Linked DNA regions of Homo sapiens: all the other regions are linked to region 1. The links come from fine-mapping of genetic effects on gene expression. A gene starts in region 1. Each other region holds a variant in brackets. All regions are shown on one strand. Distances are between the middles of the regions. Region 1 holds the start of CRACR2A (calcium release activated channel regulator 2A). Region 2 overlaps CRACR2A (calcium release activated channel regulator 2A). Region 3 overlaps CRACR2A (calcium release activated channel regulator 2A). Region 4 holds the start of PARP11 (poly(ADP-ribose) polymerase family member 11). Region 5 overlaps PARP11 (poly(ADP-ribose) polymerase family member 11).

Evidence for each region.
Region 2: its variant is fine-mapped to the expression of CRACR2A in whole blood (TOPMed, PIP above 0.99).
Region 3: its variant is fine-mapped to the expression of CRACR2A in whole blood (TOPMed, PIP above 0.99).
Region 4: its variant is fine-mapped to the expression of CRACR2A in whole blood (INTERVAL, PIP above 0.99).
Region 5: its variant is fine-mapped to the expression of CRACR2A in whole blood (INTERVAL, PIP above 0.99).

What each region holds. Positions count from the first base shown.
Region 1 is chr12:3,750,093-3,755,890 of GRCh38, reverse strand. CRACR2A (calcium release activated channel regulator 2A) reads left to right here and starts at 2,782. Exons shown (of 20, transcript NM_001144958.2): 1 at 2,782-2,876. RefSeq lists a silencer at 2,548-3,047.
Region 2 is chr12:3,726,594-3,732,535 of GRCh38, reverse strand. The region is part of intron 2 of CRACR2A (calcium release activated channel regulator 2A); the gene reads left to right. Among named protein-coding and RNA genes, the nearest start is that of CRACR2A, 24 kb to the left of the region's middle. RefSeq lists a silencer at 3,600-3,699. The variant G/A (reference allele first, on the strand shown) is at 3,031.
Region 3 is chr12:3,679,558-3,685,499 of GRCh38, reverse strand. CRACR2A (calcium release activated channel regulator 2A) reads left to right here. Exons shown (of 20, transcript NM_001144958.2): 5 at 5,151-5,262. Among named protein-coding and RNA genes, the nearest start is that of CRACR2A, 71 kb to the left of the region's middle. The variant G/A (reference allele first, on the strand shown) is at 3,293.
Region 4 is chr12:3,868,209-3,874,150 of GRCh38, reverse strand. PARP11 (poly(ADP-ribose) polymerase family member 11) reads left to right here and starts at 752. Exons shown (of 8, transcript NM_020367.6): 1 at 752-939. The coding sequence starts at 922. It overlaps PARP11-AS1 (PARP11 antisense RNA 1), which reads right to left and starts at 3,979. Exons shown (of 2, transcript NR_183432.1): 1 at 2,195-3,979. RefSeq lists an enhancer at 1-303 and a silencer at 975-1,084. The variant A/C (reference allele first, on the strand shown) is at 3,228.
Region 5 is chr12:3,832,131-3,838,072 of GRCh38, reverse strand. The region is part of intron 1 of PARP11 (poly(ADP-ribose) polymerase family member 11); the gene reads left to right. Among named protein-coding and RNA genes, the nearest start is that of PARP11-AS1, 35 kb to the left of the region's middle. The variant C/T (reference allele first, on the strand shown) is at 2,464.

The sequences.
Region 1 (5,798 bases):
TCAACTCCCTGGCTGATTCCCTGTGAAACAGAGCTCCTAGGGAAGAGCCTAGGTCCAGACCAGCTGTACAACTTGAATGGTCCAGTGTAAAATACAACTTATATGGCCCCTTGTTCAAAAATTGTTAAGATTTCAAGAAGGTGGCAGGACAGCATTAAACTCTGTATGAAGCCCTTCTAAGTGAGTGGCCTATGTCAGGGGTCCCCAACCCCAGGCCACAAACCGGTAATGGGGTACTGGTCCGTGAACCCTATTGAGAACTGTGCATGTGAGGGATCTAGTTTGCACACTCCTTATGAGAATCTAACTAATGCCTGATGATCTGAGGTGGAACAGTTTTATCCTGAAACCATTCCCACCCCCCACTCCCACCCCTGGTCCATGGAAAAATTGTCTTCCACGAAACAGGTTCCTGGTTCCAAAAAGGTTGGGGACCTCTGGCCTATGTGACTTCATAGGTCATATGCCCAGGAAGCCAGCCTTGCCTCGGTCTTATTCGTCACCTAGAGAGAGCTCAATAAATCCTCATTGAATAAACGAGTTTGGGTTTCTCCTGCAACACTGAATCATGTAATCATGGGGAAAGAGGAGGTGGAGATCCTCATCCTTCCCATGGTCCAGGCTAGCTCCATAGCCTGGGGCCAATCAGTGAGTATCAACTGTGCCTCAGTTTCCTACATCCATACATTGGAAGAACCATCTTTTCCCTGTCGCTTTTCTGCCACGGGCCAAGAGTAAAAGAGGCACGAATGTACAAGCTGAACTTGCAGCAGTTAATGTGATGGCTCTGTGATTCTGAAGGGCACCATGAGGCGTGGTGTTCTGTTAAAGAAAACGCCAGCAAATTAGAGACATCCCCATAGAAGCCAGAAGATGTGGTTAATGTTTGCAACATGAAATGTCTAGGTGTTCTGAGGTGGGCTAAAGGACAGTTGCTTTTCTTCCCTATTAAATAGGTGGTTAGACTCAGACACAAGGGAACAGGAAGCAGAATGGCATCAGAGACAAAGATGACTGCATGGAGTTTGGTGAGAAACCATCCTCAAAGCAGCAATTTTTTGGATGAGTCTCAGCCTTTCTGAGCCTCTGTTATTCCAACTGTGAAGTGATACAATTAACAATAACAAAAATTTGATAAGAGCAAATACATTTGGCATTTTTAATGAACCTACTACTATTCTAAGCCCTTTAAAGATACACATTTATTTCGATTCATAGAACACCCCATGATGCAGGAGCTGTTACTATCCACATTGTACTGATGGAGAAAGTTCCAGTAACTTGCCAAGGACGTAGCTGGCAAGTTGGAGCACTGAGATTCAAACCCAGGGCTTTGGCCTCCAGAGTCTGTGCACTAACCACTGTAATACCTCTGAGACTGTAAGGGGCAAATGAATGACAACGCATTGATTTAGAAGTGAAAGGCGATCTAAACGTGCAAGTATTAACACTATTAAAAACAACAATAACAATGGTAGGTACCTCCGATGCCTCTGACCTTATCTCTCTGGTCACAGTTTTCTGCTCTGTAAAATGGGTGGGCAGGCTTTACACTGGATAATCTCTGAGGCCCCTTCCACTTCTCAGATTCTGATAATGAAATGTCCTTCTTTCCTCACATAAGGCTGAGAGAAGGTCAAGCCACCAGCTTGCAGACCTTGGGAGTTGACACAGGGAAGCATACCCAGGACAGAGCCAGAAAAGCCAAGGCACGCAGTAGGGACACACCAGAGGGCAGGCCTCAGAGCCCCTGACAGCCTTCTGAAACTCTGGCAGGGTGGAGGGAGGTTGTGGGCTAGTGGCTGGCTGGGCTGCAAGGAGAAGAAAGGACTCCACAGAGTAATTTATAACAGCTGCTCAGTAAGTGCTAATTTGTTTCTCTCCACCTTGGAATAGGACTTAGCGCGTGTGAGAGGGGGATGCTACTACATAAACCAGTACCAGAAAGATGGGCTTGCCAGGAAAGAACTGGGGCACTCTGCAGGGGCAGTGTCTGGGGAAGGGTTCTCCAAAAAGGTGACATTTCAGAGGGGCCTGGATGGATGAGTAGGATTTCAACAGGCAGAGATGAAAGGGGAGGGTGTTCCAGGCAAAAAGAAGAACTCCCAGCAGCCATGAAGAACAGCTGGTGTTTGGCAACAGCTAGTGTGTCCAGAGCGAAAGTGTTGTGTGTGTGTGAGGGAGAGAGGGTGAGGCTGGAAAATTAGGTTGTGGCCGGAGAGGGCAGGGTGGGCCTTGCCTTGTGCGCTAAGCTGAGGGGTTATCCTGCAGCCGGAGCACCTCGGGAGGCCTTTGAAGATTTACTCAGTGCTTTATTAACAAATACGTATTGGGTTTTTGGTGTTTTGTTTTGTTTTTAACGATTCATGCCCACAGTAGAATATATAGAAGAGTCAGAAAAGTATAAAGAATAAGGATCCCCTTTAGTTTCTGCTCCCAGAGGTAACAGCCGGAGTGACGCCGGGCTGCTGCCGGGTTTTCGGGGGTGCACTCCCAGACACCACCTCTCCAGTGAGCCAGCGAGGGCCGGACTGATGCCCCACCTTGGGAGCCTGAATCGGGGCAAGGGGCCTAGGGAGCAGCGGGACCCCGGAAGCCCGACCAGTCAGGCCGGCTAAGTCGGCAGCCGCCCCGCCCTCGCCACCCAGCCTCCCTGGCGGCCTCAGGTCGCGCCTGCAGGCCCGGACCCCACCGCTTGGCGCGCGCACGTCCCGGAGGGCGTCCAGGGGGCGCCGCTTCCCGTTCAGCTCCGCTGAGGGGCTGGTCCAGCCCGCGCGGCTCGGAGCGGAAAGAGTCGGGCGGAGCAGGCGGCTGCTTGACAGCTGAGAGCCGAGCGGGCGGCGCGGGCAGGTCCACGGGAAGCCTACACGCCCAAGGTAACGTGGAGGAAGGTTGAGGGTGGGCGGCCGGGGCGGCCGGGGGGCGGCGCTTCCTGCCTGCTCCTCCGGCTGCGAAGTGTGAGCGCGTGTCTGCCGCACATGGAACTCGCAGAGGGCCTGGATGGAGGCTGTGTGCCCTTGGGGGGGAACAGCTGGCTCCCCTGCCACCCCCAGGCCTGGCCTGGCCCTTGCTCCCCTCCCTGTCACTCGGTAACGGGACTGGAGGAGAGCCGAGAAGCACTAGGGTTTTGGTCAGGAAAGGACCTTAGGAACCCTCCAGCCTCATCCAGCCTCTTCATTTCACAGATGAGGAAACTGAGGCTCAGAATGGTAAAGTGACTTGCCCAAGGTCTCAAGTCTAAGAACCAAAACTCCTACCTTGCAGGTCAGTGCTACTAGGAGCCCTGGCCACGCAGGCAGCATCCACAACTGTTGCCATGCCGAGAAACAAAGAACCGAGACAGACAGTCAGAAAGACACAGAGAGAGAACCTCCCAGAGCAAAGGAAGGAGGTCAGGAAGTGGGCGGCTGCTGGGGCTTGGCTTCCGCCCTGGCCCCCGCGTGTGCTGGCCTGGCTGTGTGGCTCAGAGGCGTTGTGCTGACTCTGTCCGTGTGTGTGTGTGTCCGTGTGTGTGTGTGTCTGTGTGTGTGTGTCCGTGTGTGTGTGTGTGTGTCCGTGTGTGTGCGAGTGTGTGTCTGTGCACCCATGCATGCACGGGATGCAGCGAATGTACCCTGCCACGTGGGAAAGCCCTCTGAGTTCATTTATCTGTTTACACAGTGTGCTTAGGAACCTGCCCTGTTTGGCTCTGTGGAGGACACCAGGAGTCTCAAAGGAATTCGTTCTGTGTGACTCAAGAGGACAGAAAGAGCCAATCCGTGGGAGTCCCCAGGGTGGTCAGAGGGTCAGGAGGAAGAACCTAACTCATGAGGTGATGGGTTCCTTGTCTCTGGAAGAAAGCAGCATGTACCGAAGAGTCTTTTTATCAAGGATGTGGGCATAGGGATATGAAATCAGAGCAGTTTGCTCCACGTGGAATCAGCATTTTTGTTGAAGGGTCCAGAGTTCATGCCCCTTTTCAGGTGAAATGAATATGTACAACCTCATGGTTTAGTATTTGCCCATAAGAGCTACTTCATGCGCAGTTTTTAAGTGATAAGTGAGAGGCTTCAGGTATGGCTTCCGAGGTCCTGTCACCTCTCGGTTCTATAAGTGAGAGGCTTCAGGTACGGCTTCCGAGGTCCTGTCACCTCTCGGTTCTATACTATAAAGTGTGTAGAGGGAGTTTGGAGGAGGGAGGTTACTTCTGGAAGGAGTGACTCGCAGAGGGCGTCCTGGATGTGGCACTGAGGCCGGGCCTTGAATAGGAGGCTGGGTCTGGGCATCTTGGGGAAGGACGGCTGAGCAAAGCCGTGAAGGTGGGTTGTACCTGAGGAGCAAGGAGTAATGTAGTGGACAATCCGGTGAGGAGTGCTGCCTGGGAGAGATGGCAGAGGCTTGGAGTGTTACGAGTCTAGAAACTTCATTATTAAGCCTAGGGATATTTTGATGGTTTCTAAGAAGGGAAGTGTTGTTCCTGGAGCTGGGTTCAGAAGAACATGTCATCTGCACCTGGGTATGGGATGTACTGCAGTGGAGGAAGCTGTGGGAAGAGAACCTGGGAAGAAGCCCATTGCAGTCACCATGAGGGGTTGAACAGGGCTGGTGGGAATGGACAGGAAGGGGCTAAAAGGCTTGGGGGTAGGGGAAAAGTCATCTGCCATGTGCCAGGGCCTGTGGTAGGAGATTTTCATGTTTAATCTCATTTAATCCTCCTGACAACCTCATGAGGAGATTGCTATGATTGTTCCATATTGTAGAGGAGGAAACTGAGAGAGAGGTTAGGTGGTTTATCCAAGGTCATACAGAAAATAAGTGGTGGGATGGGGATTTTAACCCAGAGAACAATGGAGTAGATGCAATCTGGTAACTGAATAAATGTCAGGGACCAGAGCAGAAGAGACCAAGATGATGGCGATTTGGATTCCAGAGTTAGAGTGGCTGGTGATGCCACTGACAGAGATGGAACCCCAGGTGTGGGGGGTGATTGGAGATGCGTCACGCTGTGGTGAGCCTGCAGAAGGCAGGCCCCAGCACTGGGGCAGTGGCCGCAGTAGCCATCCATTCTGCCTTGGGGCTCCTTGTTGCAATGGTTTGCTGAACCTGTTGTGGGGAGGGAGGGTTGAATCTGCAGGCTGCCTGGGTACTGGCAATGCAGCTGAGAGAAGCTAGGGGAGAGCTAGTGAGGGATTCCTCAGGGACAGGCTAATCACCCACTGAGTTCACATCTCTCTCTTGCTTTTCTTCCACACAAAATAGTGTCTATTTTGTTGCAATGCACAGAGGACTCAGGCACTTGCCATGATACCTTAGGTGAGAATTAGTTCAGATTTTATATTTTCCAAGGCCCTGTTTCCCTCGTATGTTTCCCCTAGAGAAGAGCTAAAAGATGTAATTGCCAAATATTGCAGAATATTGCAGAATTCAGGATCTTAAGAGCAGGTCCACGGCCTCTTACAATGTCATAGAATCACGGTGTTCTAGAGACAAGTCTGCCCTATTTTACGGATGGAGAAACTGAGTCTTTGCGAAATCATGGTCCTTTGTCAGCTGTTAGTGAGTGGCAGAAATGGGTCCAGGCCCTTGGGCTCCAGAGGTTTTGCTTTCTGCACTGACACACATGGAGGCCGCTGTCTTGCAGAGGAGCCTCCAGGGTTTCCTGTAAAATAGCCCTGGGGGCCAGGCTTGGTGGCTCACACCTGTAATCCCAGCACTTTGGAAGCTGAGGCGGGTGGATCACCTGAGGTCAGAAGTTCGAGACCAGCCTGGCCAACGTGGCAAAACCTCATTTCTACTAAAAATACAGAAATTAGCTGGGC
Region 2 (5,942 bases), 23 kb after region 1:
TGTCTAGTAGCCTGACATCCTAAAGAATGTCCTGGAGAGCTGGAAAAGCGGTTCTTCCAGACACATGCAGGGAGCAGCGAAATGAGATGCAGTAGAAGGTTGAATCCAGCTGGGAGCACAGTGCAATTTAGTTAAGAGTGACTTCTGTGGCATCTGCTGGTCGTGGGTGAGGGCTGGGGGAAGATAATACTAATTTGGCCATTATTACACATGTCTTTCTTGAATCTTCAATCAGATTGTCAACTCCTTGAGGGTAGTAATGGAATATTTTATGTCTTTTGCATTCTTCACAAGGTCGGGTACTCAGCCATTGTTTATTGGTTGACTATTTGATGCATTCCGACACAATACACTTGACCGGGCCAGGTCCTGGGATCTTCATTCATAGGAGCAGTGTTGTCACCAGTATCTGTTGGGCACCTGCTGAGAAGGAGCAATGGCGGGTACTTTTGCCACCCGAGTTGGCCTGAGGTTGCTGAGTGTATGAGTTTCCTAGGGCTGCCTTAACAAAGTGCCACCAACTGGGTGATTAACAGAAATGTCAGGTCTCCCAGTTCTAGAGGCGAGAGGTCTGCAACCAAGGTATCAGCAGGGCCTGACCCCTCTGTGGTGTATAGGAGGCCCCTCCTTGCCTCGCCCTGGCTTCTGACGATTTGCCGGCCGACTGTGGTCTTCCTTGGCTTGCAGCTGCGTCACTCCAATCCCTGCCTTTATCATCACATGGCATTCTCCCTGTGTGTGTGTGTTTCCAAATTTTCCCATTTTTATAAGGACACCAGCCATATTAGGAACCGCCCTACTCCAGTATGACCTCATCTTAACTCATTACATCTTCAGCAACCCCGTTTCCAAAGAAGGTCACATTCTGAGGTACTAGGGGTTAGGACTTCAATGTGGAGATCACAGTTCAAGCTGCCACACTAAGTGAGCTCATTCACAGTGACAAGACTAGGGACATACAAAGGGCCGGGGTGAATATGAATGGTGTTCCATGGTGCTGCCTGAAAGTGACTGGCAGCAGTGTCAGCAGGGGAGCATGTCCTCTGTTCTCAGCATTCACTAGAGAGGTGTGCTGAGCTGGGGCCCAGCTGGACACATTGGATGCTGTGCTCCAGAGGAGGAACTGCACTCACCTATCGCTCTCCTTTGTATGGGACAAGTGGGACAGAGCCTTGATGGGGGGAACACACCACTGGGGTTCCAGGCAGCCTTAACTATCGAGGAATGGCAGGAAATTCTGTCTGCCCAGCACCTGGTGACCCTGGAGCTCCTCAGTTTCCCGGGAAGTTGAGTTTTGGAGCAGTCTCTTCCAGAGAGGCTGGGAGTGCATCACTTTCCCCCTGGAGGTGGCGGAGGCTGCTGGGCCCAACTAGCTCATTGCCAGGCAATCCAGAGAGAGTTCCAGACACCAGATACTGAACAACCTACTTGTCTCCACACCTAGTAAAGCTTGGATCCAATGCTGCCAACTTTTCTGCCTCTCCAGTTTTGGAGCCCTTAATGTGAAGGTGCAACCCAGAAGCCTGCAGGCTGTTCGTAGCCTGTAGATGTGTTTTCTTCCCAGTAGCTGGTGTATACAGTGTTTTTGTATTATTTTTCAAATAAGCAATACATTTGTGTGGTTCAAAAATTAAAGCGCTATAGAAAGGTATTCGGCGAAATCTTATCCCTGCCTCCATTGGCCAGTCCTGCCCTGCCCCTCCCTTGTAACCACTTTTATTAGTTTCCTATACAACCTTCCAGGATTTCTTTTTGCAGATAAAAGTCAGTACAAATATATATCTGCCTCATCCCTCTACTTCTTACATAATTATAACAGACTCTACACACTATTTTTAACCTTGCCTTTTTCACTCGATTTATCTTGGTGATCTTTCCCTCTCAGTATGTGGAGAGCTTCCTCATTCTTTTTTTACAGGGGCATAGTATCCCATTGTATGGATTTACCATAATTTAGCAATCCCCTACTGATGAACACAGGTTGTTTTTAGTCATTTGCTGTTAATATTACAAGAAACACTGCACGGAATAAACCTGCCATTTCATGTTGACCCTGAACGTGTGTAACATTTAAAAATTCTGAAAAATCTTTGAATAATCAACAGAACTGGAAACACTCAGTTCTAGTATGTGGACAACTGGTTGGGTTGGGTAGCAGCTGTCCTTTTAAAGAGACCTCCCTGCCCCGCTCTGGCATCTTCCCCACCACCTCTTGCTGACCCTCTTGCGTTCAGCCTGAGCGTTGACTGCCATCTAGCAACATTGTGCTGTTTCTCTCATAGAGTATTAAGGAGGAAGGGAAATCACTCATGTACTCATGTCTCTTCAAGGGGGAAACTGAAAACCAAGGAGGCTGTCTTTTTCCAGCAGAGGGAGGAGGGCAGACTTAATATGAAAGCGATTCTTCTTCATCGGCCCCTGCCCACTCGGCCCATTTCTGTTAATCTTCTGTATGCTTGAGATTGCAGCCCCTGCCTTGCCATGTCCAGGCTTTCATCTCGGGAGCTGAAAAGTGGAAGGGAAAGAACTCTGCTCTCTTCTTGCTTTTGTGCACTATCTGAGTAATTGCATGGAGACCAGCAATAAAAATGAAATACAAGACAGTCAGAAGTGTTGCTCCATTACATGGATTCTCTCAGCAGACCCCCCAAGGCAGTGGTAGCACTAGCTCACTTTTCCAGACAAGGAAACAGTAGCAGAGTGAAGTGGCTTCACCAAGACTCATAACTCGCACACAGAAGAACTAGGATCAGAACCCAGGTTTTTCTGTCACTAGAACCTGACATTTTAGCCAATCTATCATGCTGCTCCCAAAGTCTTTTTGTTTTTTCTTGAGACAGAGTCTCGCTCTGTCACCCAGGCTGGAATGCAGTGATGCAATCTTGGCTCACTGCAACCTCTGCCTCCCGGGTTCAGGTGATTCTTCTGCCTCAGCCTCCCAAGTAGCTGCGACTACAGGTGCACACCACCACATCCAGCTAACTTTTGTATTTTTAGTACAGATGGGGTTTCACTATATTGGCCAGGATG[G/A]TCTTGATCTCTTGACCTCATGACCTGCCTGCCTCGTCCTCCCAAAGTGCTGGAATTACATGCATGAGCCAGCTTACCCGGCCCCAAAGTCTTTTTAAATAAGGAGTGGTTTACAGTTAAGCCTCTCACCTTCTAAGTCTGTCATTACTGATGCTGTGGAGATGATAGTCGTGACAAAGATAAGAGCAGCTCTGAAAATGGGCCAGATGGCTACATACTGCAAAAAAGGTGGGTGACAATGCGTCTGTGGTCTCATAACTAACGTGACGGCTGTTCCTTGACAGCTTTTCCCATTTCATAGAGTGGAATTGGCTCCCCTGCCCTTTTGCTCTTTCAATCCAAGAACATGTATTGAGCACCTTCTGAATGCCAGGCACTGCGCTCGGTGTGAGTGACAAGCCTGGTGCCTGGAGGCTAGTTCAGGCAGGTCAACAGAAAGCTGCAGTGCCACCAGCTACATGTGGTATTGGTGACATGGATGCGTTGGGTTGTGTCCAGAATGTGACAAAAGAGACAAATACGCCATGGAGCAACCATGGACAACAAGGCGAGTGGCTTCCAGCTGTCTTGGGTCCTCGTCATTTTACACTACTTGATGAAGGAAGGAAGTGGGACCCAGAAGTGGTGGCTATGAGCTAAGGTATTGAGCCATCCTTCTGCCCGCAGCCCAGGATGAACATGACCACAACTGGCAGCTCTCTGGAGGCCACTCGGGGTTGAAAGGTGGGCCAAAGGAACCCTCCCTCCCTTTGCTGCTCCACCTCAGCTTTTCTCATTCCTGGCCATTTGTTTATCCTGTAAGCTGGGGGCTGGGGGTCTCCCAAAGTATCACTCATCCTGAGAGTTAGCATTCTTCCAGCGGGGCAAAATCCTCTTCCCTACTGAAGAAATTCTAAACCCAGCCAGCTGAAAGAGGAAGAGTGCAGGGGTGAGGGGAGGATGGGACCAAGAGGGCACATTCCACTTGATCTCTGAAGTCACACCTCAGCAACGGGACTTGCCCGCCAAGGCTTCTCGTCACCATGCTTTGTTGGATTTGTAATGTGCTGTTTATCTCTCTTCTCCCGCAAGTTTGCATGCAACAGCATCTGTCATCTCTGTGGTTATCTTAGAACAACTGGGGCTTTTGCTTTTTATTTATTCTTTCTCTGAGTGCAGTGCTAACCACAGCAGCCTACGGGCAGAGGGGTTGGGGAGGGAGTCAGTTGCTTTTCATTGAAGTGCTATGGTCTTCAGCTGCAGCTGGTGTGAGTGCTGAAACTGTGTGAAACAAAAGTGTTGAAACTCAGTCCCAAGTGACTTCTGGGGATCCGTTGCCTGTGTTTCCTATGGATGAGTAATTAGAAACGAGTGGTTTTCAGGTTGAAAAGGAGACTCCAGAGTCCTGATGGAATACAGACAGCAGGCACGTCTAGGGCCACAGACAGGTATGTGTGCTGCTCTGTGCTGGCAGCTGTGTGCAGATACAAAAGAAGTATCCCATACCCTCCTTGCCCTCAAGGAACTTAGTGACAGGAAGGAGAGCAAAATTTACAGTTGGCCTACCCTCTTGGGCCTGTTTCCTCATTACAGAAATGAATGAGGTTACACTTGATCAGTATTCCTTATTTTATTTTATTTTTTTTTTAGATTCAGGAGGTACACCTGCAAGTCTGTTACATGGAGATATTGCATAATGCCGAGGTTTGGGGTTCTAATTAACCCATCACCCAAATAACGAACATAGTATGCAATAGGTAGTTTTTCAGCCCTTGTTTGGCGAGTGTTTCTAATGGGGTCAGGCTGTCCCCTAGAGTAATGCCTCTCACACTTTCAAAGAAGTTAAGCCAAAAGCCCGGTATTTAGGAAATGGTTGTTTTAGGAAGAGAAGCCTAAATGGAATAAAGACAAAACCTCGAAATGACGAGATGATCTCCCTGCTTCATGCATTCTGTCTAGATCAGAGCATTTCCAAATATACACTGAACTGAAAAGGGCACAGTACAATATGCAGTGACCGCAAAGCAAGGAACCCATGCGCAGGTCTGTAACAGGAAATCTGAGACTTCATCCAGCCGATGTAGAATTAGATACTAGTTTAAATTAGCAGAGGCGCCTCAAACTTGTTTATAAAAGCTGTTTTAAAAATAATATTCTTATCACATATATTTATATTTGTAGTACAATGATAAGAAATCTCTTGCAAAAATTAGCTATCATGGTTACTTCTTTGGGGTTGCCTTTTGTTCTTCCTTCTTACTCTGATATTCTCCTTCAAGATTTACCCAACAACTTTTCCCAATCCATCCTCTTCTTCTCACCGCCCATACTATAAGGATGTCATTTTAAAAGCTTTTTTTTTTTTTTTTTTTTGAGACAGAGTCTCACTCTGTTGCCAGGCTGGAGTGCAGTGGTGCGATCTCAGGTCACTGCAACCTCTGCCTCCCGGGTTCAAGGAATTCTCCCACCTTAGCCTCCCGAGTAGCTGGGACTACAGGGTGTGCCACCACGCCCGGCTAATTTTTGTATTTTTAGTAGAGACGGGGTTTCACCATGTTGGCCAGGATGGTCTCAATCTCTTGACCTTGTGATCCACCCGCATTGGCCTCCCAAAGTGCTGGGATTGCAAGTGTGAGCCACCACGCCCAGCCACTTTTTTTTTTCTTTCTTTCTTTTCTTTCTTTTTTTTTTCTTTACTGCTAAAGACCGAATATATGCCTCAACACAGTGGGTGGGATTTCCAGACTGGAAACATGTTTTCTGTGACACTTTGTCACTATCCTGCCCCATATCACAGCGTAATAAATTATCATGACGCTACACTTATACGTAAGACTGAGCTCACGAGACAGGATCCTGTGCTTCCTTGTTTCCTCTGCTTGCACATTTGTAATTTGATTTGGCTTGTTATCTGTACCTCAGTGAAGGTTATT
Region 3 (5,942 bases), 70 kb after region 1:
TGTCAGTAGATACTTGGGTAGCTTCCGCCTGTTGGCTATATGTGAATAATGCTGATATGGACATGGATGGGCAAATATCTGTTCAAGACCTTGCTTTTTATTCTTTGGTGTGTATACCCAGAAGTGGAATTGCTGGATTATAGGATAATTCTATTTTGTAAATTTTTTGAGGAGACACCATACCATTTTATACAATAGCTGCACCATCACATTGTAATTTTAAGGTGCAAGTTGTCTGTCCTGTCTTAGAGAAAAGAAACGGGCATTTCTGCTGAAAAGGGAACCTTCCACTCGTATCCAGCTGCTGTTATTCTTTGTGTCCAATCTACATGAGTGGCGGCAATTTTGCCTCCTGGAGGACATATGGCAATGTGTCATGTTCACAACTACACCAATTGTCATGCTTGGGGATAGGTTCCAGCCCATGCTGAGGTCCGGAGGGAATGAGTGGATGAGCAGAAACAATACTCAGGGGGCCGTAGGCAGGTGAATATGGTTTTATTCAGCAGCAGCTTTCATCAACAGCTTTCTCACACTGTCCGCCCTGTCTTGGCTACTTAATCTGGCGGCTCCCACACACAGCTGCGTGGCCCGCTCTCCCTTGCCTTCAGGGTCAGCAGCTTAATTCTTTCTTTGGGCATGTGTCCTGGCTCCCCGCAGTCTGTCTGCAATGACAGGCAGCTCTGACTCTCTCTCTTTCTCTGGGCACAAGCGCAAGCATGCCTGCACAGTGTCAACAGGACAATTATATCTTTTACAGACAATAGTGGTGTACAGCCAAGTGATGGCCTTCTCATGTTATGGCTACATGGCTGTGATAACAAGTGGAATTATACGCCTGCACTCTAAACTTGCTGACTCACGCAGGATGTAAACATTCTACCTCGGTCTATCTTTGACCAAAGCACAGCCATATTCCTTACACAATGTATGGAGGCATTTTTTATTGAAACGACTGGTGAGGGAAGTGCTGCTGGCGTTTAGCAGGCAAAGGCTAGGGATGCTGCTACATATCCTGTAATACACAGGATGGTCCCTCCCCTGCCTTCCCCTCCACTACCCCCTTAACCAAAAATTGTCCATTCCAAAATGTCGGTAGTGCCAAGGTTGAGAAACTGTGGCCTATACCACGTAATCAGCCCAAGCCAAGCACATCAAGGTGCAAAGCAGGATAAAGGTTGATCCTGCCCTCCCACCTCCCACTCTCGTCCTAGAGAGATTTGGTATAGCTGAACTGTACCACAGGGAAGAGGGTGGTTGGTGCTGGAATGGGGGTCTGAAAAGAATGCTGTGATTGCCCCAAAAGGAGGGACAGTGTAATTCTGGACATAAAAAATGGATATCCTCTGATTTTTTCCTCAATAAAAATGTCATGGAAGCATGTTTGAAGCTGTGCAACCATACACTTTAAGCTACATGGGGTATGTTACTGGGCTGGTGACTAGGAAGGTAAAGGAGCCTGGCTGGAGTGCAACAAAAGACATCACTTTCCCGTGGCTCTGGGGCATGAACTCTCAGTACTGCTGCTGTAGATGCCTCATGTTCTAGGTTCTGGAAGGTTGCCAGTCACTATGAGTCTTGCTGAGAATTAGCAGTTGGGCTGGTCAGGTTCTGGAGTGTGTGAGGTCTAGACCAGCACTCTGTACATAGGAGCTCAGGGTCTCCTGCCATTGCTCTTAGTCAAGCGCTTATCTATGCCTTCCTTCAACACTTATCTAAATAGTCCATGTTTGTCAGCATTGGGCTAGATCCTGGGGACACAACAGTGCCTAACGAATGAGGTCCCTGTTCTCAGAGCACTGAGGGAGCAGACGTTCATCAATGAGTCACATCTATCAGTATATAAAATGCTAATTGGGAAAGATTTATGAATGAGAGAAAGGTAGTTTGGGGAGCTTGTATAACCTGACCTAACCTGGGGAGGTGCAAAGGCCTTACGGAGGAAGTGACGCAGGAGCTGAGAGTGAAGAAAGAGTGAGGCTGGTGTTTAAAGGAGCCAAGGAGTTCTCAAGAGCTCCCAGGGCCATGGGCAGTACGAATAGGAAGCTGAGTTCCTCCTCATGCCTCTCTTTTTCCCTGGCCCACCCTTCCAGGTGTGTGAAAAGCTGTGCGTGCCACAGGATCTCTGGAAGGCTGGGTCTTGGTGCTGGCAAGAGAGACTTTGTGTTCTGATTTTGGTGGTGCTGGTAGGTGGGTAGGTGTGGGAGGTAATGAAGGTGAGGGAATAACAGAATGAATGCCCTGGAGAACTATTAGACAGTTGCTCAAGCCCTGGATGGAAAATCAGTTCTTTTCCCAGCTGTGGTCTGCACTGTGACTTTAGGCTAATCTCAGAGCCTCACAGGCCTATTGCACAGTGGAATAAATAATCTTGCTCCCCTCCACCCTGCTTATCTCACTTAGTTAAAAATGTAGGCCAGGTCCAGTGGCTCAAGCCTGTAATCCCAGCACTTTGGGAGGCGAGGCCAAGGCAGGTGGATCACAAGGTCAGGAGTTCAAGACCAGCCTGGCCAAGATGGTGAAACCCTGTCTCTACTAAAAATACAAAAATTAACTGGGTGTGGTGGTGGGCGTTTGTAGTCCCAGCTACCCAGGAGGCTGTGGCAGGAGAATCACTTGAACCCGGGAGGCGGAGGTTGCAGTGAGCTGAGATCACATTACTCTGCTGGGTGACAGAGCGAGACTCTGTCTCAAAAAAAAAAAAAGTAATAATAAAAATAATAAAAATAATGTAAACAGTACCAGGGGACCATACCAGAATAAGCTGGTTTTCTGTGGCTCTGTAGGCCCTGAGCAGAGCGATAAATAAGAGATAATTATGGTTATTAAGACTAAAAGATTTTTCAAGGAGGGCCAACAAAACAAGGTGAAAGAATCAGGTGTAGTGAAGAATCAGGTATAGAATCAGTTGCAGAGAAGGCTGAAGAAGCACTCAGCGCTGACTTGCCAGCACTTGAGTAGTAAGAATTACTTGGAACCTATAATATTGCTTTCCCCATCTTTGCTGACAATGGGAGGAGGAAACTGACTTGAGATGTAGACAAGAACTGGGATTAGACAACAGGGGGATTTGGGGTTCGAAGTGCTGCTGGATTCAGGAATGGTGCCTAAGGTGAGCTGTGAACTAGCCTCTCCTGGTTCATGCTAACATGAGAAAAGTGTGTGGGGTGTTTGAGTGAAAGGCATGTTGAGGGTCCCGTTGATCTCTGGAATTTTCTTGCAGCTCATTTCTTGCTCCAGCCCAGTGCGAGAGACCACATTTTGAATCAGATCCAGCAATCCTAGTCTGAGG[G/A]TGGGGAAGGAGGAAGGATAATCCAAAGGAAGGACTGGAATGTGAGCGTGACAGGAGCTTGCGCTTTTACCCTACCTCAGGTGTGATGCTTCTTATTTCCAATGATGCTAATAAAATCCCTGCTTGCAAAATTGACTCTCTCCTCACCCGTGTTCTCCTACTGTAGCTTTTGAGACAGCTGGTTTATGGATTGTTGATAAGTCAGAGATTCTGCTGAATGCTAAGCAGATATACTTCCAGAATCTTTGCACACTCTCTCTCACTCTCCTTCCTTTTCTGAAAAGCCCATTCATATTTAATTCAATTCTTCTAAATGGCTTCCACATCAGCCTGTCTTCCCACTTTATAATGCATCATAGTCTCCCTTAATGCATGTACCTGCCAAATTAAGCTTTATGGCTTATCAGCTAGAACTGCCATAGGATCAAGCCAAGTATTCTTGCCAATTATGTTATGGGCTTTCACACCTGCCAGCTCTTTTTTATTGTTGAGGTTGGTATATACCTTTCTTCTTACAAAGCCCCGCATTCATTGTTTTCAGCTGTCAGTCACTTCCACACTGGCAATTTCGCACGGTTACCGCTTAGGTAACTGGGAGGAAGGGAGAGGATCGGCTGAGATATAACTCTCTGGGGAGTTCTCATTTGGAGACCTAGATTATTTGGGTATGAGGGTACACTTGCTTCATCTATGCAAGTTAGCCTTGGCTTGGGGCCATTGCACATCGGGCAGAAGGCCAGAAGGGAGCAGCAACAGCTCAGCTGCTTTGCTCTTGGGCCTATTAATTGTTCTCTGCCCTTCCCTCCTTATGAGGTCTGAGTCTGCTCTAGACTCAAATCCAGCGATAACCTCCTCACACTATCTTGTCCAGTCCCCCTTTAACACACAAATACTCTTGGGGCCTTGATACCTTAAGCCAATGGCAGTTGAGATCTTATTAGGAATTCCTTACCAGTCAGCAGGGAGCTGGAGTGGAACCTGGACTCGGGGCCTGGGTGTGGGTCACTCAGAGGTAGGAAGGGGGATTATCCCATATCCCCTCAGAGCTCAAGCACCAAAATGTGTGTCCACAGACACTTACAAATGCAGTGCTGAGGCAATGGGACACCAGGGGCCTCCAGCAGGAGAGGCCTCAAGTAAGTGACCCGCACCCGCATCGTGGTACGGGAGAGGAAAGGGGGCTTAGGGAGAGCAGGGAAGACAGGGTTTGAAGCCTGGCTCTGCCACGTACTTCCTTGAGGGGCCTCAGTGGGCCATGAGTCTCTCTCTCTCTCTGCCTCCCTACTACTTTATATTGAATGCTTTCTGTATGCAGGCACTGTTATATGCTTTACATTCATGATTGCATTCAACTTTACAGCACCATGCTGTGTGAGTATTATCCTGAAAGTATTTGGTCCTGTACAGTTTGAGTCCTTTACAGATGTTGAGAGTGCTGGCTTTGGAATCAGAGCTGGATTTGACTCCTGGCTATGTCATTACTAGCCATGTGACTTTGGAGCAGGTAATTTCACCTCAAACTTCATCTGTAAAACAGAGATAATAGTGCCTAGCTCAGAGTGTTGTCATGGGAATTAAATGCAGATAGATAAATAAATGCATATTTACATATTTGTTTATTTATAAATCACCTAGCAAATGGCCTAGTACATTCGTAGGCACCCAATCAATGGTAGTTGTGCTAACATGCAAAGGAGGAGAGGGATGGTGAAGCAGTCTGGATGCAGAAGCTTTCTACTGGCTTTTGTAGGACTGGGCCGAACTCTAGACACTTTCTGGCAGAAGGCTCTGCAGTCCCAGGTCACCTCCCCCACCAGTGAGTGTCAGTGTTAACCAGTACACTCTGGGTTGTTTTCAGAGGCTGCATAAGGAGCTACCGCTCAGCCTGGAGGAACTGGAGGATGTGTTTGATGCCCTGGATGCTGATGGCAATGGCTATCTGACCCCACAGGAGTTCACTACTGGATTTAGTAAGTTCTGATGGGTGCTGGGGACCTCAGGGTTATGGGTCTACCTAACACTGTATAAGGTGCATTCCTGTCCCTTGTAGACCTGGGGGGCAGGTAGTAAAGCTTTCCTGCCCTCCTTTCAGGGACCTGGAGCTCAAGGTCTCCAGGCTCTAGATTGCTTGGGCCTCCTCACATGCCCGTCTCAACTGCTTACATTGCCGCTTGCTCAGTGCCCACTGCACTGCCATTACCAAGCTCCCTCCCACTGGGACTGGCAAGGGAGATGGACGGAAGCTCTGCAGAAGCCATAGCATAAAAGGGGGAGCTGTGATGAGATTTGCAGCCTCTCCTTTTCTGCCTTCATAGAAAAATGGCCAAAAGGTGGGACAACTGGATGGCTCATTCCAACCCAAGTCTGGCTGAATTTTCCAGGTTGAGGGATAACAGCTATCAGAGGAATTTCTAGAAGGTTTGAACAGACTAGACATTCTCAAGGTAACCAGGAGGAAGAAGAATCGAGATCTATGAACAATATAAAGAAACCAGACACACTATCCTATCAGATACATCAAAAGCCATATATCTGCCTTATGTGTGGGGCCATATAATTTTCTTGTAAGTATCTGATGCCTTTCCTGACCTTCAGGAGCTTCTAATTGACTTGGGAGGATAAGACAGACTGCTGTAACACTGGACAGTAT
Region 4 (5,942 bases), 120 kb before region 1:
ATGTGTAGAGGCATAGAAAAGTCCAGAAGGATCTATAATGAGCTGTTTAATTTTCATTTCCTATGGGGTAGATCCTTTGTTGCATGGAAGATTATTTCACTCTGTTAGCTCTCTTTACATCAGTAGGAATACATCCTCATGGTTTTAAACATCTTGAGGGAGCTTTCCTGACACTCTACTCTAGGTAAATATGCTCGCATAGCACTCTCTATTCACCATATTACCTATAAATCATATTGCACTTTTTAACTTTTCTAAACTACTTTTTGCTTTCTTTTCTAGATTATAAAATCTTGAGGGCAGGGATAGTATGTAAAGGTTCCCTTGTGAGCAAATAACCGTCACTTATTGAACTCTGTGTGCCAAATACTGTGCTAAATGCTTTCAATAATCTCACTCATAGGGAGATATTACTACCATCTCCATTTTGAGGATGAAGATATTGAAAGATTATGAAGTTTCTCCCAAATGCCATTGCCAGGCCTGTGTGACTCTTGGTCGTTACACGGTGATCAATAAAAATTTGTTTCATAGGAAAGAAATACAGCCAGCCGTGGCTTTAAGATCACTGGGTGATACAGTTGGACCAGAAACCCTTTAAACTCCTTCGTCAGACACAGACTCGCAAGCCCCGCCCAGGACGACCGCCCGCGCGCGTATGGATAAGCGTGCAGGGGCGGGGCGAGCTTGTAGGAGTGGGGCGGAGACAGATCTGACTGGCCAACGTCGGGCGGAAGTCGGGAGGTTGGGTGGTCTGTAAACGCTGGCTTGTGACAGGGAGGGGGAGGAGGAAGGCCTTCGTAAAGGTTGCATCTCCGTCCCTTCGCTCCCGGGGACCCGCGGGAAAAAAAAAAATCCAACACCCAGGCCCCGCGGCTAGCCCCTTCCCACAGGCTCTCTCCGCTCGATTTTGTCACCGTTATGTGGGAAGCGAATCCAGTGAGTAGCCGGGCGGGACGGGGCGGGCCCAGGGGGCGGGGTTGATGAGAGAGGGGCGGGAGGGGGTCACCGGAACTGCTTCCCCGCGCTCGCTTCAGTCTGGGTGTTGAGTTCCGGGACCGGAGTTCCCGGGCCTTTTGGCTTCTGTAGTCTGTACCTTTTTAAGCAGTGGAAGTGCCTGGGTGGATTCTCCAATGCTTTATTGTTTTCTTGTTACAATTATTTATTTTACTTCCCGTGATGTTTCAGCCTCATCCCTTCACCATTTGTTGTTGTTGTTGTTTTTGAGACGGAGTCTCGCACTGTTGTCCAGGCTGGAGTGCAGTGGCGTGATCTCGGCCCACCGCAACCTCCGTCTCCCGGGTTAAAGCGATTGTCGTGCCTCAGCCTCCCGACTGCCTTCACTGTTTTTTGAAACTTTGTGTTTTGCTTTCTAATTGGAGTAACTGGCCTTGGAACCTGTAGTCAGTCATTTGCCTCAGGTTTACCTGCCAGTCCCACCAGTCTAAAGCAAGGGAATTGGGACCCCCTTGTCTTGAATGGGCCTAAGAGGAGCCATCAGTTCTCCTTTTCCCTTCTTGGTGGACAGTCGTTTAAAACTTGGAGTATGGACTGTATGTTCTTAGATGTTTTCGTTCGGTGGACAAAGTGATCTGGAGCATTTCAACTGCAAGTCTGCCTTCTTCCTTGGCTGACTCTGGTATTTTCATTATGACTTCATGTGTCTTTGTCTACTTTGCTTTTATACATTTATTTATTTAAAGTGCAACGTAGGGGCCGAAAACTTTAGTACCTTTCCTCACCACCCATTGTAAGGATCACAGCCACCACTCCTTAAAACAGAAGATAGGTTAACAAGGTAAAAGCAGAGCAAATCTAATCAAAGTTTTACACCACCAGGCACTTCAGAGACCAGGGAGATCTCTATTTTTATGCGTAGGACCCATGAAGAATAGACAACTGTGTAAAAATGTGACTGGACAAAGGATATACTCTAATGTTAATAAACTGAGGAAGGAAGCCCAGCAAGGTCTGTTTGTTCAGATTCTTCTTGGCCTCTCTGTGTATCATTTCTTCCTCCTACGGAGGAGGAAGGTCCCTTCTGGAATGAGGGTCTTAGCGACCTACTATCAGGCAAGGTAGATTAGAGAATTTCTTTATGGCCAGTTCCTATAGACAATGGCAGGGAAAGCTTAATAGTTCCAGTTTTTATGGCTTGCTTTGTAGGAGAGGGATCCTAGTTTCTATCACTCACCTTGGGGAAGAATTCTGGTTTCTGTGACTCACTTCTGGGACGAAAGATGGGCAGGAGACAGAAGGGCAGGAGATCAGAGGGAGAGACTGCTTCCGAGGCTGCTTCTGAGGCCTTCCAATCTCTTTTAGTTCAAAGTATTCAGCATGCCAAAGTGTCATACTTCGGGGTAGTATTTTCTGAGCCCCAACACAACCCTCAGAGAGTGGGATCTATTTGCCAAGAGTATTCTTCTGTTGTTATGGTTGAAACTGCCTGGTAAGGTGGCAGATGTATGGTATTTAAAACTTAGGAGTTGACTGGAAAAATGGTAGAATCACATTTCAGCAAGTTGTTGGACTAAATACAGTCGTGCGCCTCCTAACAATGGGGATATGTTCTGAGAAGTTCATTGCTGGGTGATTTTTTTCATTGTGCCAACGTCATAGAGTGTACTTTCATAAGCCTGCTACACACCTAAGGCTATATGGAATAGCCTATTGCTCTTAACCTAGAAATCTGTACAGCATAGTATTGTACTGAATACTGTAGGCATTCGTAACACAATGGAAAGTATTTATGTATCTAAACATAGAAAAGATACAGTAAAATAAAGTGTTAACAATCTTTGGGACCACTTGTATATGCGATCCATGGTTGACTGAAAGCTTTTATGCAATGCATAATTGTGTATGAAACATAAGAAACTACTCCTATGCTGAGATAACTGCATAAATTTACTTTAATAACCCCTAATTTCCATATTTGCAATAATTTCCTATAATCAGTATTCTTCCCCTCTCATTTCTGGAATATATTTCCAGATAAGTTAGAAAGTTTATCAGTACATTTCCCTATGTTTTTAAGTTAAGTTTTTATCCAGTAGAAACTAGTCTGTTGGTCTGGATTTGGTAGTTGCACATTATGGTTCCTTCTTGTGCATCATATAACAATAGTCATCATCTTAGTATTTTCGATTCATACGTATAATACTCTCTTCAAGCTGCATTAGAGGAAAGTAATTACTTGTATTTGATTTTAGCAAAAATAATTTAGA[A/C]TAATGAGAATGTGCTCTCTGCTTATATATTCAGTTTCACTATCTGTCATCAACAACCTTCATTTTGTATTTATATCTTTATGTAGCTATTATTCCCTTTTTGTTATCAGTCCTTCTTAATTTTTCCATAACAAACCCTTTAGCCACCCAAGTATATGTCTTACTCAAGGTTTTAAATCTTTCACTATATTGTAAGATCCACAAGGACAGGGGTTTTTCTCTGTTATTTTTCCTATAGTATCTTCAACTAGAGAACAGAACCTGACACATAGTAGGCACTCAATAAATATTTGTTGAATTCATGATGGTGGTTGTACCAGCAAGGACTAAAGATAATTCTTTGCTCCTACTATGAATTTTCCCTCCTGCGTCACACATACATCAGAATTTGCTGTTGGATTATTTGTGTGTTTGTGAGAATTATAAAGGCATTAATGAATGTCTTATATACTTGATTTGTTATATCATTATCTCATTTCTTTGTAAGCAATGGGTTTTCTTTGAAATCACCTGTGTGATTTTGCTAATTTCAGCAGAGCAGGCTGACTTTTGTTAAAAGTGGGGAATCCTCCACAGATCATCTCACATTCTTCTTTTGCCACCCAAATAAGACATATTTGTCTTACTGCTACTGTATTTTATTACTACTAATAGTTTTTCTTCCTATAAGCATATGAATGATATCAGTAAGCGCAATTTGGTTTTAAAAATCAACATTCTACGTGTGGGTTTCTCTAGTAATTTGTTAGTTTATTTTAGTTTCGCTTTCCTGGTTTCACTTACCACAATTTCACTTACCAGAAGTCAGCTGCGGTCTGAAAATATGAAATGGAAAATTCCAGAAATGAACAATTAATAACTTTTAAGTTGCATACTGTACTGTGTAGTGTGATAAAATCTCATGCCATTGTGCTCCATCCTGCCTGGGGCCACGAATCATCCCTTTGTCCAGCATATCCACACTGCATATACTCTACCTGCCTGCTGGTCATATAATAACATGTAATGTCACTCACTTATTTATTGAGCACCTGTTATAAGCTAGTTAGTGCGAAGTCCCAGGGTTTACAGTGGTGAACAGAACAGACTAGGCTCCAGCCTTTATGGGTTTGCAGTCTGGTGCAGGCAGGCAGATATTAAACAAATAATTATGCAAATACATTTAATTTAAATTGTGATAAAAAGATATGAAAGAAAAAGAGTACTATGACAGTGTAGGGGGAGCTAATACTAGACTGGGCAATCAGGAAAGGCCACCCTGTGAAAGTAACTTTTATAGAGATCTGAAGGATTGAGCAAGCGTTAGCCAGGTAAAGGTTGGCTGGAAGGTGGGGAGAGCTGTTCAGACAGCAGAGATAGTGTGAGCAAAGATCCTGAGAAAGAAAGGAGCTTGGTGCTTGAGAAAAAGAGAGAAGCCTATGTGGCTGGGACACAGTGCACCAGAAGACAAGCCCAGGAGGTAGGAACCAGGCCATGCATGGATTTGAGGCACATGTTTAGGATTTTGAACTTTATCCTTAGAGGAGTGGTAACACATTGAAGGAAGTGTCATGAACATATTTATGTTTTTAAAAAGATTACTCTGGCTGATGTGTGGAAAATGAGTTTATGTATTAGAAAATATGGTAGACGTAATAATGGCCTCCTAAAGATATCCACATATTAATACCCAGAATCTGTAAATATGTTGTTACATGGCAAAAGGGAGGTAATTAGCTAATCAGCTGACCTTAAGATAAAGAGATTACCTTGGATTATCCAGGGGGGCCCCAAAGTAATCGCAAGGGTCCTTAAAAGTAGAACATGGGGACAAAAGACATGGAGTGACTATGGAAGAATGGTCAAAGAGATACAACATGGCTGACTTTGGAGATGAAGGAAGGAGGTCACAAGCCAAGGTATGTGGGTAGCTTCTAGAAGCTTGAAAAACCACGGAAATAGATTCTCTCATACAACCTTTAGAAGGGAATCAAACTCACCTTGATTTTAGCCCATTGAGATGCATGTAAGATTTCTTCAGAAATGTAAGAAAATAAATTAGTGTTGTTTTTAAGCCACTGCGTTTGTGGTAATTTGTTCTAGCAGCAAAAGAAAATACTGAGGGGGATAAGGGGCTGTAGGAAGACTAATTAGGAGGTTATAGTGTAGTCCAGGGTAGAGACGAAGGTGACTTGGACTATGTGGGGAAAGTATGAAGTCACCTATGAAGGTGACTACTAAGTGGGGAGAGAGGAGATCAATTCAAGCTGCATCTTAGATGATGACTTAGCTTTCTGGCATGGGCAGCCAGGAATAAGATGTTTTCACTGAGCCATATGGAAGATAACAGGAGTTTGGTTCTGGACTCACTATGTTTAATGTGCCTATGAAGCATCAGGTAGTAAAGTTTGGAAGGCAGTTGGTTAGGGAGGTAAGTCTGGAGCTCAGAGAAGAAGGCTGGGCTGGAAATTGAAATTTGAGCCTCAGTGTCTATAGGTAGTCTGTCACCCAAGCTGGAGTGCAGTGGCATGATCTCGGCTAACTGCAACCTCTGCCTCCTGGGTTCAAGTGATTCTTGTGCCTCAGCCTCCTGAGTAGCTAGAACTACACATGTGCACCACTACACCTGGCTAATTTTTGTATTTTAGTAGAGACAGGGTTTCACTGTGTTGGCCAGGCTGGTCTTAAGCTCCTGGACTCAAGTGATCCACCCGCCTAGGCCTCCCAAAGTGGTGG
Region 5 (5,942 bases), 82 kb before region 1:
TTTGTTTTTGTTGTTGTTGTTGTTGATTTTCTGGCTGGAAGTCCCTTTTTATTATTTTTTTAAGTTTCTTACTTTTGCTGTATTGCAGTCTACCCCTCACTTTAAGTCTATTAATGTTTGTTTTATATACTTAAGATCTTGGGTGTTGAGTGCATAGATATTTATAATTATGTCCACTTGCTTCGTTGACCCCATTATCATTATTTATTGACCTTCTTTATCTCTTTTTACAGGACTTGTTCATAGTCTATTTTATCTCTTTATAAATATAGCTACTCTTTGCTCTTCTTTGTTTTCCAATTGCGTGGAACATCTTTATGCCTTCACTTTCATCCTCATGTGTGTCTTTATAGGTGAGGTCGGTTTCTTGTAGGTAGTATATATTTGGATCTTGGTTTTTTTTTTTCTTCGCCATTCAGCCACTCTGTGCTCTTTAATTCGAGAAGCGAGTCCATTTGCATTCAGGGTTATTATTTATAAAGTCGTCCTTACTAGTTCATTTTGTTGCTTATTTTCTGGTTGTTTTGTAACTGCTCTCTTCCTTTCTTACATCTTCCTTTCTGGTTAAGTGATTTTCTCTGGTCGTATGTTTTAACTCATTAGTTTTTATTTTTAGTGGGTCTATTATAGGTTTTTGCATTATGGTTACCGCAAGACTTACAAACACATCTTGTAGATTCAACAAGTTGTACTATAGAGAGATTAGAGATCTTTGTAATTTAGCTGTTGAGTATCTTTTTTTACCCACTAGGCCTGCCTCCTTTTAAGCACTAGATGGTGCCTTACGCTCAGGTTTTTCTCAGCTCTAGTAAATAATTAGGACACTGCCCATGCTGAGTGGGAGAGGTACCAGAGAGGTTATCCTGGCAGTGCGGGAAGGCTGACTTGGAGTTTGTGCCTGGGAAACCTGTGGAGTGAAGCTCCTACAATGTGGTGTTGCTGAATAGCCACTCTGATTTGGTGTCGTCTCCTTTGATTGAGTTACAGAGCAGTTTCCAGGGTTAGGGATTGTAGTCCTACTTGACTCCTTTGTCTCTGGCTGTTTTCAGGGATAGTTCTCCCTTCAGGTACTCCCAGTGCTTCCTGTAGATTGAGGTAGGGACAGGTCTTCTGTCAGGGAACCCAAGATGGTGGGAAAGCTGGTTGGCCACCTTAATCTCACTTTTTCCAGTGTAGAAATCATGAATCAGGGGAAAGTTTTCTGTATGCTTGATGCTGGGCTGATTTTGTGGTGAGGCATCGTGGGTGAGGAAATCCAATTCCGTTACTGTCTGCTCAGAGTTTTTTCATTCCTCTGTGTCCCTGGGAACTGTCTCTCCCTACATAATATTTGCATTCTGGGATATTGCTGGCGATAATCTTGGTGCTGTGTATTTGTTTTTGGTTTTCTGTGGGGGCAGGGAGCAAAGCCAGCTTTCTTCTGTGCCACCATCTTGGAACTGGCAGTTCATGTATTGGTTTATGTAGTTACTTGTAAATCAGTCAAGAGAGGAAAGGAGAAATCAGCAATTATACCTTTTACCAGCGCTCTTTTCTTTTTTATCCCCCATGGATTATTACGAATGCCTAGTATCATTTCAGCCTGATAAACTTCCTTTATTATTTCTTGTAAAGCAAGTTTGCTAGCAGTGAATTCTCTCAGTTTTTGTAATTGTGGCAATATCTTTATTTCACCTTCATTTTTGAAAGATAGTTTTGCTAGTATAAGATTCTTGGTTGATAGGCGCTTTTTTTTTGTTTGTTTTTTACTTTATGTATTTTGAGAATGATGTCTCCTAACTTTTGGCCTCTAGGGTTTCTGATGAGAAAAGTCAGCTGTTAATCTCATTAGGATTCTCTTATATGTGATCAGTTGTTTTTCTCTTGCTGATTTTAAGATTTTCTGTTTGTCTTTGGCTTTCGAAATTTTGACTTTGATGTGTCTGCATTTGGATCTCTGTGTTTTTCCCTTTTGGAATTTATTGAGCTTCTTGGATGTGTAGATTTATATCTATACACACACATATATATGTGTGTGAGTGTGTGTATATATATATATGTGTGTGTGTATATATATATAAAATTTACAAATTTGGATAGTTTTACTTTCTTTAAAGTTTTTCCTGTGCCTTTTTCTCTCTCCTCCGCTTCTGATACTGTAGTTATTTATATGTTGGTGCACTTAATGGTATCCCACATTTCTCTAATGCTCTGTTTATTTTTCTGCAATTTTTTCTTTCCTTTCTTGCATTTCATCTGTTACATAATGTCTATTAATTTATGTTCAAGTTTGCTGATATTTTCTTGTTCACAAATCTACCACTGAGCCTTTCTAGAGTGTTTCATTTTACTTACTATACTTTTCAACTCCAGAATTTCCATTTGATTATCTTAAATTATTTCTCTCTTTATTGATATTATTTATTTGATGAGACATTGTCATCATAATTTCCCTTAACCTGTTAAGCAAAGTTTCATTTATGT[C/T]TTTGAGCATATTTGTAATAATTGCTTTGAAGTGTTTGTTTGCCCAGTCTACCACCTGTGCCTCATCTAGAGGCAGCTTCTTTTGGTTTTCTATGTGTATTGATCACATCTTTATGAAGTTTTTTTATGTCTCATAATTTTTTTGTTGAGAACTGGATATTTTAAGTAACATAGCAACTCTGGATACTGATCCCTATTGTGGTTGTTTGTTTGGTTATTGGTTTATGTGTATATAACAGTGATATAGCTGAACAAATTCTGTAAAGTCCATTTTCCTCACAGTGTGTAGCTTCTGATATCCCAGCTCAGACTTTTCCCCTCTTAACCTGACTACTTATGTGGCATTTCTGGATTGGCATAGACTATGTACTGGTCACAGGTTGTGCTTACATTCCCTGAGGTAGGTAGATTTTTACCCTTAAGTGTTAAATGTGTGTGTGGCTTGGTGGCTGCTATTATAGTTCAGGGAGTTTACATTTTTTTTTGTCCTGCATTTAGCCAGGTGCTAGAAGCTTGGAAGTTAGTTCCTGAGAGGGCCCAACCTTGAGCATGTACACAGTGTTCCAGACTGTCAGGGATGACAGTGCTGTTTCATTTAACCCTGGCTTCATAGGAATTACCCCTGGGTCAGAGTAGCTTCTGTTACGTCGTGTTTGGCCAGAGGTGGTGATTCAGACCCTTGTGCCAATGAAGTTTCTCCGCTCTGTCAGTGGGTACGTGTATAGCTTAGAGAACGTTTTCAAGACTGCCCCACGTTCTGCCCTGATCATTCCTGGGTGTACACAGCCTAGTGTTTTTATACTGCCTTTCTGACTCCTCTCTGATCTAAGAGGGCTCTTCTTGGCTGTCTCTGGTTCTCTGCATTAAACTTCTGCTTGCTCTGCCTTTCTGCTTATATTGGAGCTCCTAGCCTTTCTTAATTGTTTTTCATTAATATTTCCACTGTTTTCTTTCTTTCTTTTTTTTTTTTTTTTTGAGATGGAGTGTCGCTCTTGTCGCCCAGGCTGGAGTGCAATGGTGTGATCTTGGCTCACTGAAACCTTTGCCTCCTGGGTTCAATCAGTTCTCTTCTCTCGGCCTCCTGAGTAGCTGGAACTACAGGTGCACGCCACCACACCTGGCTAATGTTTTGTATTTTTTGTAGAGTTGGGGTTTCACCATGTTGGCCAGGCTGGTCTCAAACTCCTGGCCTCAGGTGATCTGCCCATCTTGGCCTCCCAAAGTGCTGGGATCACAGGCATGAACCACCACACCCGGCCCACTGTTTTTGATAATGCCCTTAGGCATGGGGTTCTGCTCTCTGTTCCAAATAAAGTCAGTCCTCTCAGATGGAAATGTAGAGCTCTTTGTCCTTATGGCTCGTCTTTACCCCTGAGCAAAGTCTCCATGCCACTGCTCCTGGGGCTGAAGGTGAGAGTCTTTTTTCCCCAGAGTAACACTCCATTCTTAGAGTGGGCAGTGGAGTGCTGGTAGCAGCCCTTGGTCTTCTTAGCTGACTGCTCCTGGCACAAAACCTCTACTCTGGGAGGAAGTTGGGGCGGTGGCAGTCAGGGCCCAGTATTTGCAGCCTGCTGTACCTGGAATAGAAATTCTACCTTTTGAATGGGGGCTGTGTAGGGAAAGAGAGACGGGTCCTCTGTGTCACCTCTCCAGAACAGAGCTTCTACACCTCTGGGCTGAAGGAGAGGAGAAACACCAGCAGCCTGCCCTTCCCGGGGTAAAACTAGCCACAGACTGGAAGCCTGAGGGAGAGGGAGCCCTCTGCCTGTCTTTTGGGTACATATACCGCAGGTAGAGGCTTCATAATACAGACCTGGTAGGATGTGGGGAATGGTGCAGTTTGTAACTCAAACGCCACAGACTCTGACTTGTTCTGAGATTGAGTACATTTTCTTGAATGAATGTTTCTCCACTTTTTGTATGCCCTTAGTACAGTTTCCAGAGACTTTAAATGTTTGTTTTTTAAAAAAATTTTCAGCAGTTTTTAATTTTTAATTAATTAATTTTTGTGAGGCAGGGTTCTGCCGTGTCAAGCTGGAGTGCAGTGGCGTGATGTTAGCTCACTGCAGCCTCAAACTCCTAGGCTCAAGTAATCCTTCCATCTCAGCCTCTCAAGGGGCTAGGACTATAAGCATGCATCAGCATGCCTGAGTAATTTTTATTTTATTTTTTTGTAGAGATGGAGTCTCACTGTGTTGCCAGGCTTGCCTCAAACTCCTGGCCTCATGCAAACCTCCCTTCTCAGCCTCACCAAAGCCCTGGGATAACAGGTGTGAGCTACCACGCCCGGCCTACTAGTTTTTAAAATGTAGTTTTGCCAGTTCCACTGAGCTCCTTATTCTGTCATTCTGGAAGTTCTCGTTCATTTTTAAGCTTTTAAGATCAGGTTTGAGATCTTCTTTATATGTAGAGGCAAGGAAGTTGTTATTACCAAATATGATTTCCTGAAGATACTATACTCATGCTAACAAAATAAATTATACTTTGTTGTAGTAAACTAAAATTTATATCAGAAAACTTGAAACCAGTCTGGAAGGCAGCCTTATTTTCCTTATATAGACCAGGATTTTGACTTTAAACTCATTTTCCACACAGCTTTTCAATTTGATGATTCAGACTGACTGTTCCCAGGCTCTGTAAATAAAGATTCTCTTTGTAACAGATAACATTACGGACAGGCTCTACCAGCATACCCATTGCCCTTGAAACTTTACAAAATGCTTTGCCGCTTTGTACTAGCTTTTTCTTCTTCCCAGCCTGCTTCTAATTACAAACAGGAAAATCAGACAGGATATGGCATTGTGACTGAACAAGTTCATTCATCTAACATTATTAAATACCTGCTTCATAACCGATAACTGGTGAATATTCTTTTTATTACCTATAAATGTGTCCTAGCCTAGAGCCATTCTTACTATGGTTGCGATATTTTAAAGTTATTAATTTAAATTTGACTTAACTCTTTGAGCATAATTATGCAAAATAGTCATTTCTTTGGAGAGAAAACTTACTGTAGAAAATGGAAATGTTTAATCTTATAAAATGCATCTTTTTAAAGAAACCCAGAGCATCTGTGAAGCAAAGCAATTAAACTAAATGTTAGCAACATAGGAGAGGAGAAATAACTGTCCATGTGTGAAAAGGAGACAGTGGGGCTTGGTAACTTAGGGGAAGAAGTGATGTTCAGGAGGCCTTAGGTGTTGCTTTAATATTCTCTGTACTGCTAGCTGTGAATCTAGACAAAAAATTGTATTATTCTCTGCTTCGGTTTTTTTCCTGACTTTAATTGGAAAATAATCACTTATCTCTCCTGCACATTGGATTGTGGACGAAAAAAATAGTGTAATTTGATAAGGAATTGTATAAGATTTGAAGTGCTTTAGGAATGTTCAATACAATGGTACCTGTCCCACCCAAAGCGATTTATAACAGAAAGCTCTGAAAGGATGTTGCTGAAACACTTTCATTTATAACCTGGC